3 linked regions of the Homo sapiens genome follow. The protein of the gene in region 3 purifies or fractionates together with the protein of the main gene of each other region. This does not show direct contact. Each region holds a gene or a part of one and is shown on either strand. Other genes may lie near its edges.

Region 1 (7,026 bases), on a different chromosome or scaffold from region 3:
GCTGAGACTTCTTTCTTGATTAACACAGGGGGAGCACCTGGGGACCACGGAAGCGACCGAGGCCTTCTTTGCCATGACCAAGCTCTTTCAGTCCAATGATGTAAGTGCCTCAACCCAGCTTTCCTTGAGAGGTGGCAGCTGTAACAAGGTGGTGGGAGGGCCAAAGAGAGCTGGCCCCACCAGTCAGTGTGGGCTGCCTTTGTGGAGACAGGAGGTATCTTCTCCCAACTCTGGCCCTTGGTGAGCCCGGGCTGATAGGGCTTTTCCCACCTATCTCCCAGCCCACACTCCGTCGGATGTGCTACTTGACCATCAAGGAGATGTCTTGCATTGCAGAGGATGTCATCATTGTCACCAGCAGGCAAGTCATGGGGTTGTGGGTGGCTCTTCTGATGGGTTCCATTGACAGACCATTTTTTTCTTGTGTGTACCAGACAGTGAGACTTGGTTGCATATTGCCAGCTGCCCACCCCGTGGCAGCTTCCCTGTTACCACTGCCCACCCCATGGCAGCCTCCAGGTGTGCTGTTTCTATTTTAATTCTCTGACCTTGACTTGGACACAAATGCTTCCTTTTCTTGATTTCTCTTAGTCAACCAAACCAGCTTAGAACTTTCCCAAAGACTTTCTTGAGTATAAAGAGAGAACACAAGAAAAATAAACAAGAGAGTACAAGCGGTATACTGCTTACTAAGTGACTGGTGTCTGCTTTAAGCTAAGCAATTCAGGGACAGATGTGACTAAAGTGTAATCACTGCCCTTAAGAACTGGGGCTCAGTTCTCTTATTTCTTCCTGCCACAGTTTAAGGTTGTGGGGGTCATACATTGATTTGTAGGTTCAGTTAGAAAATATTGTCTGTCAGTCCCTGTGTGTAGCTCTGGGGATATAGCAACAAAAAAGATAGACATGGCCTCTGTAGCCCCAGAATTTACAGAGAAATAACCAGGCATCAGGCCATTAAGGTAGGGTGTAATATAGTTTATCACGGAAGTATTATGGGCTATGAGAGCAGACCAGAAGAGCATCCAGCTTGATTAGAATTACGAAAGTCCTCCCAGAGGAATGATCTAAGTGGAGTCCTGAAGGATGAGTAAGAAATAGTAGGACAGGACAGGCGCAGTGGCTCATGCCTGTAATCCCAGCACTGTATCCACAATGTAATCCACAGACTGCGATGGGTGGATCACTTGAGGTCAGGAGTTTGAGACCATCCTGGCCAACATGGTGAAACCCCGTTTCTACTAAAAATACAAAAATTAGCCAGGTGTGGTGGCGCACACCTATAATCCCAGCTACTGGGGAGGCTGAGGCAGGAGAATTGCTTGAACTGGGGAGGTGGAGGTTGCAGTGAGCTGAGATCATGCCACTTACACTCCAGCCTGGGTGACAGAACGAGACTGCGTCTCAAAAAAAAAAAAAAAAAGCCAGGAGTGATGGCTCATGCCTGTAATCCCAGCAGTTTGGGAGGCCGAGGCGGGTGGATCACAAGGTCGGGAGTTCAAGACCAGCCTGGCCAACATAGTGAAACCCCCTCTCTACTAAAAATACAAAAATTAGCCGGGTATGGTGGCATGTGCCTGTAGTCCCAGCTGCTGGGGAGGCTGAGGCAGTAGAGCTTGAGCTCGGGATGTAGAGGTTGCAATGAGCCAAGATCGCACCCCATTGCGCTCCAGCCTGGGCGACAAAGCGAGACTCTGTCTCAAAAAAAAAAAGAGTAGGACAGAGTGGAGGTGAGGGGTGAGGAATGCTACAGGCTGAGGAAACAGCACATGCAAAGGCTGGAGAGGAGTGAGCATAGCCAGTTAGGGAAGTTCAAGGAGTTACATTCAGGTCACTGGCAGTAGGAAGCTATGGAAACTTTTTAGCAAAAGCAGGGGGATGACCTGTTTGGTTTTGAGTCTTATGAAACTCCCTCCAGCAGCTGTGTGGAGTTAGGCTTGGAGGGGCAGGAATAGAGGGAGAGCACTGGTTAGGAGGCTCGTGTAGTAATCTGGGCAAGGGTGGTGTTGGGAGCTGGAGAGGAGTAAACAGGCCCAGGCTCTCTGCATGCTGACAATGCCTTCTTCCCTGCAGCCTAACAAAAGACATGACTGGGAAAGAAGACAACTACCGGGGCCCGGCCGTGCGAGCCCTCTGCCAGATCACTGATGTGAGTCGTGCCGGTTCCTCCCTGCTTCCTGGCCTCTTGATTGAGGCCTCGGCATCATCTTTTGCATTCTTTGGGGTGTCCCCTATCACTGAGCCAGGTGATGTGGGGTGGAGGCAGTGTGCAGGAGCACATGAGAAACGCTTACTTCCTCCTCATACTCATCTCTGCCCCCATTCCTGCACTCCTGAGAGCTGCCAAGGACTGACTGGATCTCCTTCCACCCTGCTCCTTTTGCCCACAGAGCACCATGCTGCAGGCTATTGAGCGCTACATGAAACAAGCCATTGTGGACAAGGTGCCCAGTGTCTCCAGCTCTGCCCTCGTGTCTTCCTTGGTGTGTAGTTGCTGCTGGAGCCCTGCTGGGGGTGGGGTAGAAAATTGAAGAAAATTTAAGAGTCACATTCCAGTAGGAAAAAAGAAAGTGTTTCTTTCTTTCTTTTTTTTTTTTTGATTGAGACGGAGTCTCACTCTGTCACCCAGGCTAGAGTGCAGCGCCACGATCTCGGCTCACTGCAACCTCTGCCGCCGGGGTTCAAGTGATTTTCTTGCCTCAGCCTCTTGAGTAGCTGGGATTACAGGCGTCTGCCACTGTGCCCAGCTAATTTTTGTGTTTTTAGTAGAGACAGGGTTTCATCATCTTGGCCAGGCTGGTCTTGAACTACAGACCTCATGATCTACCCGCCTCGGCCTCCCAAAGTGCTGGGATTGCAGGCGTGAGCCACTGTGCCTGGCCTCTCTTTCTTCTTTTTTTTTTTTTGAGACAGAGTCTCACTCTGTTGCCCAGGCTGGAGTGCAATGGCTCGATTTCAGCTCACTGCAACCTCTGCCTCCCTGGCTCAAGCGATTCACATGCCTCAGCCACCTGAGTAGCTGAGATTGCAGGTGTGCACCACCACGCCCAACTGATTTTTGTATTTTTGGTAGAGACGTAGTTTCACCATGTTGGTCAGGCTGGTCTTGAGCTCCTGACTTCAAGTGATCCACCCGCCTCGGCCTCCCAAAGTGCTGGGATTACAAAGCGTGAGCCACCGCACCTGGCCAAAATAAAGTATTTCTGTATCTGTAAGCCTGAGAGTCCCACCCTTCTCAGTGAAGACAGCCAAGAAACTCTGGGGTGATTGAAGAGAGTCGTGGGTGGATGGTGTTGACCCATGCCTTGGGGAGGGACATTGAGGGTGGGAGCATCCTGAGTTTGTCCATGGTCTCTGAGGACCAGGACAGTGGCGAGCCCCTGAGCTGTGTCTGAGGGAAGACCAGAACTGGGCCCAGAATGTGTGATGGGGACACTTCCTACCTGCCCCTTAATGTGTCCTGTTGCCCACAGCACCTGCTGAAGTGCAGCTTTGACGTGGTCAAGCGCTGGGTGAATGAGGCTCAGGAGGCAGCATCCAGTGATAACATCATGGTCCAGGTGAGATGTGAGCAAGGGAGTGATATTTAAAACACTCAGGCAGGTGGTAAGGCACTGGCCAGTTGGCATGGACACTTGCCACCGAGATCCTTGTGACCCCTGGCCATAGCAGGCTTTAATCCTTTCGTCATTGGATCATGGGAGGAATTAGGAGGTCCTGGGTTAGAGAATCCAGGGTACCACTTGGGGCGCTTGGGTTACAGACTGCTTACCAGCTGGTGCTGAAATATTCAAGTATTTTGATAACCAGCTGAGTATTGTTTTGGAGCATATGATGTGGCAAACTTGGCCAAGGCAGGCAGAGGGCCGCCTAAATTTAGGCCTTTGCCAGCCTGGCTTTGTTATGATGTGTGGAATTATCTTGATGAGGCTTTCATCCACTTTACTCTTCCTCAGTGACCTAGGACAGCCGTTCCTTTTATCTCTCTGGCTCTTGGTTTCCTTGTCTGTAAAATACGAATGAAGGTTACTGCCTCACAAAGCAGCAAGGACGAGCTGAGATCATGCATGTAACATGTGACCCATCTGGGTCATGAGTGCCTATCGGCGCTCCCTGTGTGTTTATGTATTCCCTTTATCTCTCATCTGTCTTCTCATCCTTTGCACGATTCTTGTCTTCAGGGCCAGCTGTGGCCCCTCAAAACACTTATGAGGGCCAGATAAGCTTCCCACATAGAAGGCTTCCACAGCTGCCATATCTTTGCCCCCAAATGTCGCTCCTTTAGGAAACAAAAGAGAGTATCGAGGACAGGAAATAACTATGAGACCTCACATCTTTAGAAAGGGAGTCTCTGGGCTTCTGGCCCTCCAGGCCTAGCTTTGTCAGTACCAGCCAGGAGTCTTTGGGCAAGTCAGCAAAGATTAAACTGTCTACCTTCAGGGTTGTTGTGGGTAATGCAAGATTTCATGGCTAAGGTGTCCCACACAGTGACTTACAAAACATGACAATGCTCAGGGTCTGGCTCCCACCTTCTCTCTCTCATTGTCTGATTGAAAGCACCAGGTCTCCCACATTGCTTTCATCTTTGTGCTGTTTGTTGTCCCTTTCCATATCTGTATTTATGCTACCTGTTAGGGCTCTTGCCGAAGCAGGGGTGGGAACAAGAACCACAGATATACTTCTGTGGTTTGTGAAGCATTGTGTGGAGGGCTGTGTACACAGAGTACCTGGGGCAGTTGTCACAGCCACTCTGTGTGGTAGCTGCTACTGTGCCCATCTTAGAAATGAGAAGGCTGAAGGACCCACCCAGGGCCACACAGCCAGTATACCCAAAAGTCATACATTTGTACTCTGTTGCTGTCTCCTGTCCTATAGTACCACGCACTAGGGCTCCTGTACCATGTGCGTAAGAATGACCGCCTAGCCGTCAATAAGATGATCAGCAAGGTCACACGGCATGGCCTTAAGTCTCCCTTTGCCTACTGCATGATGATCCGGGTGGCCAGCAAGCAGCTGGAAGAGGAGGATGGCAGGTAACGGCTCTCATCTCTCACCAGCTAGATGATGCCTCACTCATCCTACCATGCTGGGCCACCCCCAACGTTTTCTTGCCACCCTATGTTCTTTTGTAGCCGTGACAGCCCACTGTTTGACTTCATCGAGAGCTGCTTGCGCAACAAGCACGAGATGGTGGTGTATGAAGCCGCCTCGGCCATCGTCAATCTGCCAGGCTGCAGTGCCAAAGAGCTGGCCCCGGCTGTGTCAGGTCACTGGGCATTCCTTCACCCAGCCTCACATGTTTATGCTTGCTGGGAACTAGGCCTGGGTTCCCGGGCTAGGAGAAAGAAAGAAAATGCTCTTAACAAGTGTTAAGGAGTCTGTACCTAGGAAGCACCTGCCCCAGACACTATGCTGAGTCCCCACTTGTATCACGTTTTGGTGGTGGGCTGCTGTTAGTTCCATCTGACTGCTGAAGAGGCTGAGGTAAGGCTCGGGTCCACTCTGGAGCCTGTCAGGTTGGCTGGCCACAGGAGGAGGCCTGGTGGAGGAACCCAGGATCTGTGAAACTGGTGCATGTGAAGTGGGGCTGCACTTTTCCAGGTGAAGGAGAGAACAGTATAGAGGGTCGTTCTGAGCCTCCAGCTCCAGCACTGGAGCAGGGCAGCCTGGGTTAGAGCCCTGGCTCTGCCCCTTACCAACTGGGCAAGCCTGGCAAGGCCGCCCATCCTCTCCATGCCTTCCTTTTCTTTTCTCAGATGTGGATGATAGATCATGCCTATTACATAGGGTTATATAGCCAGAAAATGTGTGATCTAGACAAATTGCTTAGAAGGCAACATGTTTGTTGTTTGCCGTTTGCTGTTTTTTGTTTTTGCTTTTTGAGACGGAGTCTCACTATGTCGCCCAGGCTGGAGTGCAGTGGTGCGATCTCAGCTCACTGCAACCTCTGCCTCCCAGGTTCAAGCGATTCTCCTGCCTGAGCCTCCCGAGTAGCTGGGACTACAGGCGCCCACCACCACGCCTGGCTAATTTTTGTATTTTTAGTTGAGATGGGGTTTCACCATATTGGCCAGGCTGTTCTCGAACTCCTGACCTCATGATCCGCCCGCCTCGGCCTCCCAAAGTGCTGGGATTACAGGCGTGAGCCACTGCGCCCAGCCGTTGTTTGCTGTTATTAAGGGGAATCCAGCAGCCTTGAGTCCTGGAGTCTTTGGTGTCTCCTCTGTGCAGGGCCCTGCTCTGGGTGTGGGAATACCCTGTCAGGGAGGAGAAAGCCTATGAAGAGGTGCAAAGTGGTTGGTACTGGAAAGTGGATATGTTGAGAGGCTAGAAAAGGAGAGGTGCTTAGGGTGAGAAACCTGGATTCAAAGTGGAAGAGAAGAGGGGAGTGTTTTAGAACAGGCCCATGGAAAGCAAAGATGTTGTGGCAGGAGAGTTAGATTTGCAGGTTTTGAGAAATGATTGGGCCTCTTGTTTTTCTATTATTCTCTACTATAACAGTGTAAACTTGGTCAGGCAAACAGATGGAGTTCATGTTTGGAGAGAGAAGTCTCCTTTCCTCCTTAGAAATGAAGAAAGAATGAACTGCTGGGCACGGTGGCTCACGCCTGTAATCCCAGCGCTTTGGGAGGCCGAGGCAGGGGGATCACCAGGTCAGGAGTCCGAGGCCAGCCTGACCAACATGGTGAAACCCCATCTCTACTAAAAATACAAAAATTAGCCGGGCGTGGTGGTGCGCATCTGTAATCGCAGCTACTCATGAGGCTGAGGCAGGAGAATCACTTGAACCTGGGAGGTGGAGGTTGCAGTGAGCCGAGATCGCGCCACTGCCCTCCAGCCTGGGCGACAGAGGGAGACTCTATCTCAAAAAAAAAAAAAAAAAAAAGAAATGGAAAAAGAACTAATGAATTCAGTCACTGATTTGGGTATTCATTCATTCTTATTATATCCCCCATATTTCCAGAATAATGAAAGATGTAAATAAAGTAGGGTCTTCAAAATAAGCATTAAGAAAAATTTTTTTTG
Region 2 (7,026 bases), on a different chromosome or scaffold from region 3:
TCAGGTGTTCTGTTAGTCCATTTGGAATACCTGAGACTGAGTAATTTATAAGAAAAGAGTTTTAATTGGCTCATGGTATTGCAGGGTGTACAGGAAGTGTGGTGTTGGTATCTGTTTCTGGTGAGGGCCTCAAGAAGCTTAGAATCATACTGAAAGGGGGAGCAGGTATGTCACATGGCGAGAGTTGGGAGTGAGAGAGAGAGAGACGGGAGGAGGTCCCAGACTCTTTTAAACAACCATATCTCAGGTGAACTAACTGAGTGAGAACTCACTTATCATCAAGAGGATGATGCCAAATCATTCATGAGGGATTCATCTCCACGATCCAGTCACCTCCCACCAGACCTCACCTCTAACATTGGAAATCACATTTCAGCGTGAGATTTGGAGGGAACAAACATCCAAGCCATATCAGGTATTGTTGAGTTAAGGGTTTTGGTTTTTTGGTGTATCTTATTCCTTCAAAGCAGGAATGTGTCATTATCCAGAATAACCATAACTTGTTTTTTAAAAGTGTTCTCTGCAGAGAATACCTATTGAGTGTCTTCATGTTTGTTAGCTGAGGTTTTGGTGAAAAGGAAGGAAAGGATTTATGTTCTTATGAACTAAGCTCTCCAGTGGTCATGGTGTTCTTATTGTTTTATGCATTGTAATTGTTTTTAATAGTCTTTTATTTGAGGCACCTGGGTTCTTCAGTTCCCCAGAGGAGAGATAAATCATTCTTTAATTATGAAACTATCTGAGGCATACTTGTTGCATCACTTAAAGGCAGGTTTTTTTGTTTTTGTTTTTGTTTTTTTTTTAAGTTTAAAGGAAAATAAAACTCTATTGTGATCCTGAAGTCAGCAGTAGAACTTAGTTTGGTGTGTATGTCCCCCAGAGCTATCAATACATTTAGATGTTGAGGATGGAAACAGGTCAGGTAAACTTGTTCATGGTTCTAAGGTAGAAGTTAGAATATTACAATAAGTCTTTTTGCAGTGATGAAAATATTTCATATCTGTCCCAGCTACTCAGGAGGCTGAGGCAGGAGAATCACTTGAACCCAGGAGGCAGAGGTTGCAGTGAGCCGAGATTGCACCACTGCACTCCAGCCTGGGCGACAGAGGGAGACGCTGTCTCAAAAAAAAAAAAAAAAAAAAAAAAAAAAAAATATATATATATATATATATATATATATATATATATATATATATATAATATCTGTGGCTATTTCAATGTGCATGAATTAAAATTCAAAATTTGGTGGCTACCATGTTGAATGGTAAGAATAATAGGGAGTCAATGACAAACAGCCTTGATGTTTTTTAGTTTTCTATTGTGGTTTTATGTCAAAATGTTAACATTTTGTCTGCCTGTGGCTTTCTTTTTCTTACAGTGGTTGTGTTTTTAGTGTCCAGATAGTCGATTAGTCAGATAGTTGATTATTCATGTCGTGATTCAGTCTAAACAGTATAACCAAAGGTGCACAATCTGAGTGACCTCTCAGGAGCATGTCCCACTCAAGGGCTGAAGAGAAATTGGATCACATGGTCACTAGATTTGGTTGGAACATAAACTCACTTAATTTGTTTTCGTTTAAGCCTCTTGAGTCTGTAACCACATAGCCTGCTTTTAGTTCTTCTGCACTGGAATCTAAAATGACAGGCTAATTATCTCTTTGCAGCCTGTTTACTGAGGGGGAAATCCTCTGAGGCCTGTTCTAAAGAACCCTGACCTGATATTCAAATGCTTTTGAAAAAAACCTGCTTTTTGGTTCTCCTTGTAGGGAAAGTACGAAGTACACAGTAAGTTTGAATCCCTAGCATGATCAGAATGTCTGAAACCAGACCCTTTGGTAATGTAGAAAGAAAATGCACATTTAAAAAGTTGTCAAATATAAAATAAGTTATTTTAAGGAAGTTCCTTTTTTCTCTCTCACCTTTGCTTTAGTGGCCATCAATGATAAATTAAGTTATTGTTAAGCTTCCATTTTTCCTCCTCCGTTCATTGTTTCCGAGATTTCGGCCACTGAGGAACCATGGTAATGACTTTGCCACACTGGAGAATACCGTTACAGTATTAGTTATTTACTATTTTTTCTTGACATTGACATTTAATTGACATTTTGATTGACACTTAAAAGTTTCATTCTAAATAATACCTACGATATTACTAGTTTGATATATCCATTTTTCTTAATATATACTAGAATACATATTTTTAAAAATAAAAAACATTTCCCCACATACCATCTAAATTTGCAAAGTCTGGCCTGATTTCTCTGATCTCTTCTAGGAATACTTTCAGAATTGGCTTATATTTGGCTAATATAATAAAAGCTATACTATAGGAAAATTGGCTTTTTCTTCTGCATAGTGGCTTAAATTTCACTGAAGAACTTCAGGAAACCTAAAAGGCTGTGCTCATAATTCTCTCTCACTGAAACAGCGCTGCATCTCCCACACTTTATACTTCTGGAAATAAAGTTATGTTTTTCTTTCTCCTTTTCTTACTTCCTGCCTCTCTGAATCCAATTATAAGTTGTTTTACCAGTAGTTCTTATGTAATTTAGGGCATTCTTTAAAATTAAAAATAATTTAGGGCATTCCTTTAAAGTTAAAAATCAAAAGCTCAACTCCTTATGGGATGGAAAGAAAAAAAATCAAAAGCATATTTTTTTCCAGTATACATTAAGTTGTTAAAATGCTATGAGAAGTGGTGCTTACCATGTGAAAAATGCTCAACCTAAATCATAATAAGGGAATTGGAAATCCTAACTACACTTGGTAGTTTGCTAACTCACTTTGTTGGTCGGTGTGCAGAAGCAGACACTCTCATGCTTTGCTAATGAGATTGTAAATTGGTACAGATTCTGTGGAGGGCAACTTGTCAATATCCATCAGAATTACAATATATGCCCCTTTGACTCATTCTTTCCAGGAATTATAGATTTATTTATTCTCCTGTTTAATGACATAGATACAAGGTTATTATGGCATTGTTTGTAATGGTAATACATTATGGAATATTCACCCAATGAAATACTAATCAGCTGTAGAAAAGAATGAAGAAGCTTTTCATGTGCAGTTATGGAAAGGTCTTTGAGATATAAGTGGAAAGAACAAAGTACACAGTAGTATGTCCAGCATGCTCCCCCCGACCTTTTTTTTTTTCTGAGACAGAGTCTCGCACTGTTGCCCAGGCTGGAGTGCAATGGCGTGATCTTAGCTCACTGCAACCTCCGCCTCCCGGGTTCAAGCGATTCTCCTGCATCAGCCTCTCAAGTAGCTGGGATTACAGGCACGCACCACCACGCCTAAGCATGCCCATTTTTTGTGTAAAAAAGTGAAAAAGTATACACACACACACACACACACACACTTTTTTTTATATGCATAAAACATCTTTGGAAGACTACACAAAACCAAATAACATTGATTGCTTTTGGAGGTAGGGACTGACATGGGAGGAAATTTTTCACTGTATACTTATATGCTTTTTGAATTTTGAATAATGTGGATAAATTATTCAGAAATAGTTAATAAAAATAGTCTTTAAAATATATAAATATATGTGTACATAGATAGACACACACACAAACTTGGCATGAGACTTCACTATGTCTATATCCTAAATAAGAGCCTTTCTATAGGTCTGTATTCTGTTTCTGCTCATCAGGAACTGACATTTTCTAGACCTTTTTCTCTCAGTGAATTTTTTTATAAAAGGTTATAAGTCTCCTTAGAGATTAATTTTGTTATTCTTTAAATCCACTACTGTCTTTCATTATTTTTGTGCTAGTTTCATTTCTGTCTAAAAATTTAACCTTTTTGAAGTCTTCATTACGATCCAAAGGACAGGATAAGCCAAAGGGGGATAGACATAGTAGATAAACTGATATTATTAATCAATGACAGAGAGAGGGCAGAATTTTTTTTTTTTTTTTTTTTTTGAAACGGAGTCTCGCTCTGTCGCCTTGACTGGAGTGCAGTGGTGTGATCTCGGCTCACTGCAACCTCCGCCTTCTGGGTTCAAGCGATTCTCCTGCCTCAGCCTCCCGAGTAGCTGGGATTACAGGCATGTGCCACCACGCCCGGCTAATTTTTGTATTTTTAGTAGAGATGGGGTTTCACCATGCTGGCCAGGTTGGTCTCGAACTCCTGACCTTGTGATCTGCCCGCCTCGGCCCTCCCGCCTCCGCCTCCCTTACAGGCATGAGCCACCGTGCCTGGCAGAGGGCAGAACTATTTTTGTTTCTATTTTATTCACTAAGGTATATTCAGATTGATATGGGTAAATAGGCAATATGGATTTCTGTTTTCAGTAATAGCAGACTAGGTAATTATCTCTCATCAGGGACAATTAGAAAATATGGGTGAAATATAAACATCTGCTGGAAGATACTGGAGAGATAGAAAGATCATGAAGAATTACCTAGCTGTGATCCATGTGAGAGCTATAGAGATCCAAGGACAAGAGTCTATTTTGGGGCTCTTTTGTCTCCTGAGGGTACATGCTGGATTCCTGAGTGGGGAAGCTGAGTGACAAGGTCATGAAAAGTGCCTCTTTGAACTAAAGTAACAGGAAATGGATTAGTGTTCAGGACCCGTCAAGGGGGAGCCTGGTGAACTCCATTTCCTTTGGGTTAGGGCCATGAAAGGCCATGCCCTAAAAGTAGGTCATTGCAGGGAGTGCAACTCAGCTTCAGAAACAGCTAAGTTCATGAATTGGGATTTTTGGGTGGCTTTGACAAGCTGGTTCTAAAATACATATAGAAATAGAAGGCCACAAATAGCAAAGACACTCTTGAATAAGACAACAGGGAAAGATTTGTTCCATCCAACATCAAGACTTATTTTAAAGTTTTTAAAGAGTAGTCAGGCTCTAGGAATAGAATCAAAAGCTTAGAAACATGTTTATACGGACACTTGCTTTGCAACAAAGATTGTTAACATAGAGCAGTGGGTAAGGTAAGGTAAATGTTTCTGGGACAATTGAATATTCTAAGAGAAAGGAAAGTAAAGAAACGTAATCTTTACCTCACACATCATACACAAAAAATCAACTCGGTAGATTATAGAACAGTATGTGAAAGGTAGTACATAAGCACCTACCTATAGGATATGGGAGAATATTTTCGGATCTCAATATAGTGAAAGACATCTTAGACAGGACATACAAAGACTAAGGAAGGCAAATTTGATAAATTTTGAGTACACAAAAGTACTTTGGTTCATCAAAGGCCACCATTAAATGGGAAAAGTCATGTCACAGAGTGGAAGCAGGTAATTATAATACATATACCTGACAAAAGGTTTGTATCTAAAACTCCTATAAATAATAAAAAGGGACTGGGCTTGGTGGCTCATGCCTGTAATCCCAGCACTTTGGGAGGCCAAGGTGGGCGGATCATGAGGTCAGGAGTTCGAGAACAGCCTGGCCAATATGGTGAAACCCTGTCTCTACTAAAATACAAAAATTAGCTGGGTGTGGTGGCACGTGCCTGTAGTCCCAGCTACTAGGGAGGCTGAGGCCGAAGAATCTCTTGAACCCAGGAGGCGGAGGTTGCAGTGAGCCGAGACCATGCCACTGCACTCCAACTTGGGTGACAGAGTGAGACTCCGTCTCAAAAATAAATAAATAAATAAATAAATAATAAAAAGGACAATCCAGTAATAAAATTGGCAAGAGACTTGGAGAGGCACTTCACAAAAGAAGATTTTTAAATGGCCAAGAAATACGAGTCATTGGTGAAATACAAACTAAATTAGCATACATCTACCAGAATGGCCCCCCAAAAAAATTTTAACATGACCAAGTGTCAGAGAAGGTCCAGAGTAATGAAATGATGCTACAATGCTGGTAGCATTATATTTGGTACAACCCCTTTAGAAAATAGTTCGGCATTATCTACTGAAATTTAACATTCAAATTTCTATGACTTAACCGTTTCCATTCTGACATTTATATCCAACATAAATGTATGCACTGTAGCCAAGACACAAGAATATTCATAGCAGCATTATTCATAATAGCCCCAAACTGGAGTTAACCTAAGTATCATCAACAATAGATAGATAGCTCATGGTGGATTCATGGAATAACGTACAGCAATGACAGTGAACAAACTGGCTGGGTGCGGTGGCCCATGCCTGTAATCCCAGTACTCTGGGAGGCTGAGGAAGGCGGATCACCTGAGCTCAGGATTTTGAGACCAACCTGGCCAACATGGTGAAACCCCGTCTCTACTAAAAATACAAAAATTAGTTGGGCGTGGTGGTGGGCGCCTGTAGTCCCAGCTGCTCAGGAGGCTGAGGCAGGAGAATCGCTTGAAGCGAGGAGGTGGAGGTTGCAGTGAGCCGAGATTGCACCATTGCACTCCAGCCTGGGCAACAAGAGTGAGATTCTGTCTCAGAAAAAAAAAAAAAGAAAGAAAGTTAACAAACCTACCTACAATTACATGGGTGCATTTTTTGATGCAGATTTTGATGGATGCATCAATCAAAATAATGACTGAAATAAGCAAGACCCAAAAGAAAACATTCTTTTTCATTTTCCTTTATATGGAATTCAGAAAACAGGCCCAGTGAAGCAACAGTGTTTAGGAATGCTTACTTAGGTGGCCCAGCTATAAAGAAAGCAAGGAAATAATGTCCATAGTTGGGATAGTGGTTTTCTTACCTTAAGGAGGAAAGGATCAGGTAATGATTGGGAAGGTCATGAGTGGTGCTTCTGGAGTGTTAGAAGTGTTCTATTTCTTGGCCTGGGTGGTGTTTGTGATAATTTATTGAGGTATACACTTTTGTGTACTCTTCTACATTTGCGTTATATTTCACAATAGAAAAGATTTAAAAAGTTTTTTTTTTTTTTTTTTTTTTTTTTTAGACAGAGTCTTGCTCTGTCACCCAGGCTGGAGTGCAGTGGTGTGATCTCGGCTCACTGCAACCTCTGCCTCCCAGGTTCAAGCGATTCTCCTGCCCCAGCCTCCCAAGTAGCTGGGATTAGACACACACCACCATGCCTGGCTAATTTTGTATTTTTAGT
Region 3 (7,026 bases):
CAACTTTTTACTTATTCCTTATCCACATTCCTCCCTTAAGAAGGAGGATGGGGTAGGGATGGCATGAGGACACTTACTAGATACAGAACTAGATTCAGAGGTGAGTGTCTCACTGTCCTCTGTCTCCTATAGTAACTAACTGCCCGAGCACAGCAGGGAAAGCTGAAGTTACATACATTGAGCAGTTCTCTTTCTCCAGTAGGGAACATTTGGAGCAAAAGAATCACACCAGAGTATAAGGGCTGGGGGAGGTGTGTTCCTGCATGAAGGAAGACAGATGGATGAGGCGGCTTAAGGAGAATCCAGTAGCCAGAGGGGAAGCATTTTAGATGAGGGGAAAGGAGAAGGAGTAGAAGGGCCCTGAGGTTCTCCCATGCAATTTTGATGGGAGGAAACATCATGGAGATTAGCACTCAATAATATTTGCTGATGAGCAAACCAATATCAGCTTAGTTCTCTATCTAACAGAGTTTCTGCAACTGTGACCCCATCCACCCTCCCAGGCCCCAGCACACCACTGTGCAGTCAGCCCTCAAGTCTCTGGGATCCCAATGGGCCTTCCTCTCTTCCCTTTTTAGGGCATCTGCTCCCAACTGCTAGAAGATGCTCTGGACCAGAATAGCAGGTGAGCCGTAGATACAGCCTACAGATCCTCGTGCAGACGTAGGATAATAACTGGAAAGGCCAGTACTAGGCAGCATGAAGGACTTATAATTGATAGAGATCCCCAACTCCAAACCCTAGCTAAGAAGGCTGTGGGGTTACTTTCCAGTGATCCAGAGTTCGTAGCAGGAGTGGGGCCGGTAGGAGGGTGGGAAGTGAAAGGAGGTAGGCTCACTCTGCCTAGGGGTAGTGCAAGGGTCAAAGTGACCTTCGGAGGTTCTTTCTAGACCCAGAAGCCCACTTAAGGCTCCTAGACCCGTTCTTCTCCCCACCCCTTCCCCTCACCATGCCCCCACTCCTTCCCAAAAAAAGGTGGCTAAAAGACAGCTCTGTTGGAATTGTAGATAGGGTTGGGGGTGGGGTCATCTGAGTGAAACCAAGAGACAAATAGTTGGGGGAAAAACACAAAAAAACTAGCGGTGAGAGACCTCCATTCTAGTCCCAGACTTGCCACCAGCTGCCTGGACACCATCATCTTACCTCTCAGAGCCTTGCTGGGAAAATGATAACTGTTCCATCTACCTCCCAGGGCCAGGAAGGGCTAGGAAATATCTATGTGCCCTGGGCAAATGCAAAGACGGACACACTGGACCTGTGCCAGCGAGGCCAGGTGGGGCTTTAGTTATTCACATAGAGCTCAGTCCAGGGTACTTGACTCAGCTCTGGGGTGGGGGGCCTGGCCCACCTAACTGCTTCCATGGTTGAGGCAGGAATGGGAGCATTGCTTAGAGTGCAGCAAGAGGCTGTGTCCATGGTTAACGTATAAGCAGGTGCAGTCTGGGGCAGCGGGACATTCTTAGCCCCAGGGCCACATTCTTAAGGTCACAACAAGTGCAAACTTGTTATAACCAGTGTCAGAGCAGCAGAGGGCAGCAAGGGCATGGGGGGGAGGGACATGGTGCTGAGATGCCTGCGGCCGTGGAGGGGGTGCAAAAGGGAAAGGGGGGTGGGGTGGAGGGAGGGTGGGTGTGCAGGTGCATATGCCAGGAGGTGGTGTTGTGGACGTGCGATCTGTGTGCTGGGGTCAGTGTGTTGTGTCTGGGCACATCCGTTTGGGTGTGTGTTGGGAGCCGTGTGTGGGGCCGCATAGATGAGTGTATGCCTGTGTGTCTCTGCATATATGAGCCCCGGGGAGTCCTGTAGTGGGAGGAGGAGAGGTGGCAGCCACAGGTCCAGGCTGGGCATACGGAACCGAGAAGTGGGCAGGCTCTGAGTGCCCCTTCCCCTTCTCAGGCCTCAGAGAACCTGCATTCCAACTCCTCCACAGACTGCCCCTGCCCCTGTGAGCCTAGGGCCTCTCCCCTCTGTGTGCCCTCTGCAGCCTGCCCTGTCAAATGCCCATCTCCCCAGCCTGCCCAGAGAGTGGGGGAGTCACCTCCTGCCCATCCCCCCTGGCCCAGGGCCCACTCCCCCGTGCTCTCTGGGCCCTCCGGACACTGGGGCGAAGGGGGGGTGGTGGGGAAGGCTCTGAAAGCAGGTGACTGTTTGGGGGAACTAGGGGACAGAGCCCCCATTGTGCCTGCCCCGGAGCCGCCTCAATGGAGCTCCCTGGCACAAAGGGGCTTTGACAATGGGCAGGACATTAGTATGCAGAGCCAGCCCCTCAGCCCTCTCCCTGTCCCACAGCCGAGGGGCGGGAGCTGGGGGACTGCTGGTAGAGGGTGAGGGGGGCCCAGGACTGAGACTAAGGAGATCTTGGCCCACAGGGGCTCCCCTGGGGGCACTGCCCAGGAGACAGGGGAGGAGACTAGACTAGGGCCTCCAAACCTGCCACTCGCCAGAAAGGACTTTCCAAATGGAAAAAGCCACGGGGACTGGTAGGAGTGGAGCGGGAGGGGCTGCGGGATGCCAAGCCCCTTGGTCCCAGGCTGGGCTCTAGAAAGAAGTGGGTGGGCAGTCTAAGTCCTCCCACGTTTTGCCTCAGTTTTACCATCTATGCAAAGGAATTTTGTGGGCAGGAGAAGAAAAACAGAGTAATACATAGCAAGTTCCCCAACCCCAGCAGGAAGGGCATGTGCTCAGGGTTTGGGGTCTTTGGGGTTCTACTTCCTTGGGGTGCCACCTTCTTTGAGATCTCCACCTGCTCTGGTTCTGGAGGCTGAAGAAGCTACTACAGGGGAAGCAGGGGTTAGGGACAAGAGTCGCCTGCCACCTGTGCTCTTCCAGGGAATTCAACCTGAACTAGTGAAGGTGGAGCTGGAAGCCCAGCTCAGGGGAATTTGACTGAAGGGCCAATGAGCCAGGACTAGCTCTTCCCAGTATATGTCTAACTCCCCATCTGCCTCCTCCTGTTCTACAATCTGTGAGGAGAAGCTTCCCTTCTCCTGCCCAGGGAACCCCAGCAGGCACCCCTATCCTCATTAATGCCCTCAGCACCACCAACTGGCTTTTCCAAGGCACCATGTTGTGCCTTGTGGTGCCTCAGCACAAAGGGCAGGGCCAGAAGGCATGATCTGGGGAGGGGCTCCTGGGCCTTGGGTGGTGGGAGAGCTGAGAGGAGGGCAGTGAGCGGGACTGAGCACCTCATGAGAAGCAGGGTTGCCCAATCACAGACTTCCTACGAGCCCCAGGAAGAGAAGGCCGGGGACACTTTGCAGAACTGCTCCCCACACGGCAAGACAGAACAATCTCTGGGCTTGAAAATGTCTTCCTAGCTTTCTTTCTCCTCTTTTCAGTTGCTGTCAGTATCGGAAGTTCTCCCTGCTGTCTGCCCTCAAGGCTTCCCACTGTACTGCCCTGGCCCTGGGCTCACCTGAGATTGCTGGGGAAAAGAAAGGTAAAGTCTGCTTCTTTCCCCGTCTTAGGACCTTGCTCCTCCACTCTCCACAAAAAAATTCTGGCGGGGAGAGCAGAGATGGAGCTAGGCCTTAGAACTCCTGGGTTCGGGGCCCAACAACCCTGTCAACTCTCTCTGGGAACTTGCACAGGTCACTTTCCCTCTCTGGGCCGAGCTCCTATGTGTAGCATTGGATGGATCTCCTCTGCAGCTCCCTGCCTTCGGGACAATGCGCAGTGGATTCAGGGGCAAGGCTCCGGAATTTAATGAGAGCTCACATCATTGAGCTCTACGCTGAGCCCTTTCCTATTATGTCATTTAATTCTCAACAACTCTAAAGGTGGGTGCTTTTTAAAGTCCCATTTTATAGATGAGAAAACTGAAGCACAGAGATATTAATAATTTGCCCATGGCCACATAGCTAGTGAGTAGTAGAACAGAGGCAGAACTTAACATGATGAACCACTACCCCATACTACCTCCCTGGTGAGAACATTCAAAAGACCATGGCAGCTGAAGGAAATCAACGAGGATATTCAAATTGGCCCAGGTTTTTGAAACTGTCTTCTAAGGTTCCTCTAGACTAGCAGTTCTCAAAGTATGGTCCCTGGACCCTTTCGGAGGGTTCCTGAGACCCTTTCGGAGGCTCTACAAAGTCAAACCTATCTTCATAATAATGCTAACAATACATTATTTGCCCTTTTCACTTTCATTATTTCACAGTGTTCAGTAGAGTTTTCCAGAAGGTACATGACCTATGATATTGCAACACACTAAATGCAGAAGCAGATGAGAAAGCAACTGTCTTTGATTAAGCCAGATGTTTAAAAAGACTTGTGAAAATATAAGACAATGTCACTCTTCTTATTAACTTTTTGTTTACTTTAATACAGCTGTTTTTCATTAAAAATACGTCATTTTGTTAACATGCAAAAATTAATAATTATTTCATGTGTCCCAGTGTTCATTTCTAACACAGTAAATGTTCATAGATAGAACCCACACAAACCAAAGCTCTTTGGAGTCTTCAGTAACTTTTTAGAATGTAAAGTGGTCCTGAGGTCAAAAAGTTTAAAAACCAGTGCTCTAGACTCTAATACACTCACCCTCTCCTCTTACCAGTTGCCTATATCTTTTTTATCACAGGGTCAACCGGGAGGTTTAGACACGTGGAGAAGGAGTGTGCCTGGCTCTACCAGTTGGAACTGGGATCAGAAGTGGAGCTGAGGAGGCTGGTCCAGGGAGAATGCAGTGCTAAGAGGTCAGACCTATACCCCACTTGGGAGGTGACCTCACATGTCTGCCACCTTGCAAGCCCCTGCTCAGAGGTATGCTCAGGACAATGGGGCTGCCTCAGACTAGACTCTGACCTTTATCCCCCTTTTTCATTCCAGACGATGCTGCTGACAAGCCCGGCCTCAGGCTGGAGTCAGACTGCCCTGGTGAGGGGAGAAAGGCTCTCTGGGGCCTACATACCTGCATTTGTGTTGGGGGGGTGGGTGGAGCAACAATGCTTAGAAGACTATAAATTGGGGGTTCTAGGGCTTGTAATCTTAGGGTGAAGCCATGTCTACAGGATGGGGTCGTTAGTAGGAGAGGGGTTTCTCTTGAGATCTCCTATAGAATTAGATAATAGGATCCTATACACACCCTGCTGCAGGATGCTCACATAAACCTCCAAAGTCAGGCTCCTTCCCCAAGAATAAGCGATCAGAAATGTTTCCTACCTAGAGTCAAACTGGACAGTAGCTACTCTGTGTCTTAGGAGGCAGGCCCTTTGCTGGGTGCCAGAGGGTCCAGAGAGAGAAGAGATGCCTTTGCCAATCTGACGGAGGTACAGGCCTCACCCTAGAGGAAACCCCCGGCTAATGAGGGAGACAAGTCTCCTCCAACATCGCCATGCATGGAGAACCCTGGGCCAAGTTGCAGATGCAAGTAACAAGCAAGATGGCAGAGCAGAGAGGGAAACAGGAGAATAGAGATCTGCGGGAGGGGTGAGACTTGGAATGGCCTTTGTGAGGGTCCAGAGTGTGGGGAGGAGCATGGCTCAGAGACTGCCTGGGATATGCTCCCCAGGATCAGGGTCTGAAGAGTGCAGTTCCACAAGATATGGGGCTGGAGGGGATGGGAGAAAGGCATAAAGTCTCTTGAAGCCTGTGATTGGGAAATTTTTATCCAATGCCAACAGATGTGTCTGGGTAGAGAAAGGGCAAGATAAAACTGATGCTTCATGATGACAATTCCAGTGATAATTTCATTATAGGGTAACAGGGAAGGAGTCGAGGAGAGAGGGGGCTGGAGTCAGGGAGGTCATTAAGGAGGCTGCTGTGGGCATCCAGGCTGATGGGATGAACAAGCCAATCAGGAGACACAAGAAGAGAAGGGCATATAAACCTGAGAGAAGTTGTGGGGGCAAACCTGGGCCGGGAGAGGGAGAGGCAGGATGAAGAATACAAGAGCGATAGGCAGGACCATGGGAGCAGGAATGAGATGTGGGGGTTGTCTTGACCGACAGAAGAAGTCTCTGACAGAAGTCTTTGGCTGAAAGAGAAGTTGCTGAGAATGGGGAAAGAGACTATTTGGTGAAAGCTCAACCACTCAGTTCTCATTTATTGAATCTGAAGACAGGACATCTGCTTGGCAAAAACTTGTGGAAAGCAGGGGCTGTGGGTGTGGAGACCCCACCTCAAGTGATGCCCAGCCTATTGGAATCAAGGAAGGAAATGCATCTTAAACTGCTTGATAATTCTTCTACCTTCCCAAACTCCAGAAGGGTGGGAAGAAAAAACCTAGGACAGAATCTCAAAACAAAACAAAGCAAAACCCACAAAGAAGGGCTGGGACAAAGCCCAGGAACAAGGAAAGATGACACAGTAGAAAACATTAGAGTGGTGGGAGAAAAGCAATGGCCCACAACTCCACTTTTTACAGACTAAGGACCATTCCAAGCCCCTTACGGTAGTCACTGTGCATCCTCACAGCAGTTATGAGCCCTATTGTGAGGATGGGACTTCCTTAGCTACTAAGTGGTAAACCAGGACCGAATCCCACAAAGTCAGACTCCAAGGCCATGCTCTTAACCATAGTGCCTGCTGTCTCTCAGAGCGGAAAGTAGCCCTGGAACAGCAAGAGAGAGGTGCAGCAGCCACCCAGGGGAGGCCCCTGACAGTTGTCACAATAATCCCTGCACTCTGAGCTCCATCACTCCTCTCGGAAGCTTTAAGGATGGGCTTCTGTGTTTGGGGATTTTGTTGGTGGTTTTTGTTTTGTTTTGGTTGGTTTTTTTGGTCCAGAAAGTGGTCTCTCTTTCCTTCCCAGTCTCCATTTCAAATGTCTTTCCTTTTCTAGGATGTGCTTCCTGAGATCTAACCTAAGTCCTTCTAGCTGCAGCCACAATCCTTTCCCCAGGTGTTGTGCCATCGGAAAAGTTGCACAATGGCCATGTATACCCTTTCTGTGCTGCACCTTGTTGGAGGCTTGAGGTCTGATTCAGTCCTCTTCTAGCTCCTGCTTCTCCAACCTCCTTCTCCATGCCACAAAGTTCTGTTCTTACTTCTCTCTCACATTCCAGAGCCAGCCCCTCCCTT

The links. The genes of interacting proteins can lie anywhere in the genome.
Region 1: the proteins of KCNJ10 (region 3) and COPG1 purify together in Homo sapiens (affinity purification with mass spectrometry; 3 studies listed by BioGRID and IntAct, with this or other methods). This does not show direct contact.
Region 2: the proteins of KCNJ10 (region 3) and TMED8 purify together in Homo sapiens (affinity purification with mass spectrometry; 3 studies listed by BioGRID and IntAct, with this or other methods). This does not show direct contact.

What each region holds. Positions count from the first base shown.
Region 1 is NC_000003.12:129,252,595-129,259,620, forward strand, and holds part of COPG1 (coatomer subunit gamma-1), read left to right. Parts: intron 1-28; coding exon 29-100; intron 101-281; coding exon 282-361; intron 362-2,073; coding exon 2,074-2,149; intron 2,150-2,390; coding exon 2,391-2,483; intron 2,484-3,473; coding exon 3,474-3,560; intron 3,561-4,875; coding exon 4,876-5,033; intron 5,034-5,132; coding exon 5,133-5,266; intron 5,267-7,026. UniProt on the Homo sapiens protein: The coatomer is a cytosolic protein complex that binds to dilysine motifs and reversibly associates with Golgi non-clathrin-coated vesicles, which further mediate biosynthetic protein transport from the ER, via the Golgi up to the trans Golgi network.
Region 2 is NC_000014.9:77,367,080-77,374,105, reverse strand, and holds part of TMED8 (protein TMED8), read left to right. Parts: intron 1-196; exon of another isoform or gene 197-415; intron 416-7,026.
Region 3 is NC_000001.11:160,060,151-160,067,176, forward strand, and holds part of KCNJ10 (ATP-sensitive inward rectifier potassium channel 10), read right to left. Parts: intron 1-7,026. UniProt on the Homo sapiens protein: May be responsible for potassium buffering action of glial cells in the brain. Inward rectifier potassium channels are characterized by a greater tendency to allow potassium to flow into the cell rather than out of it.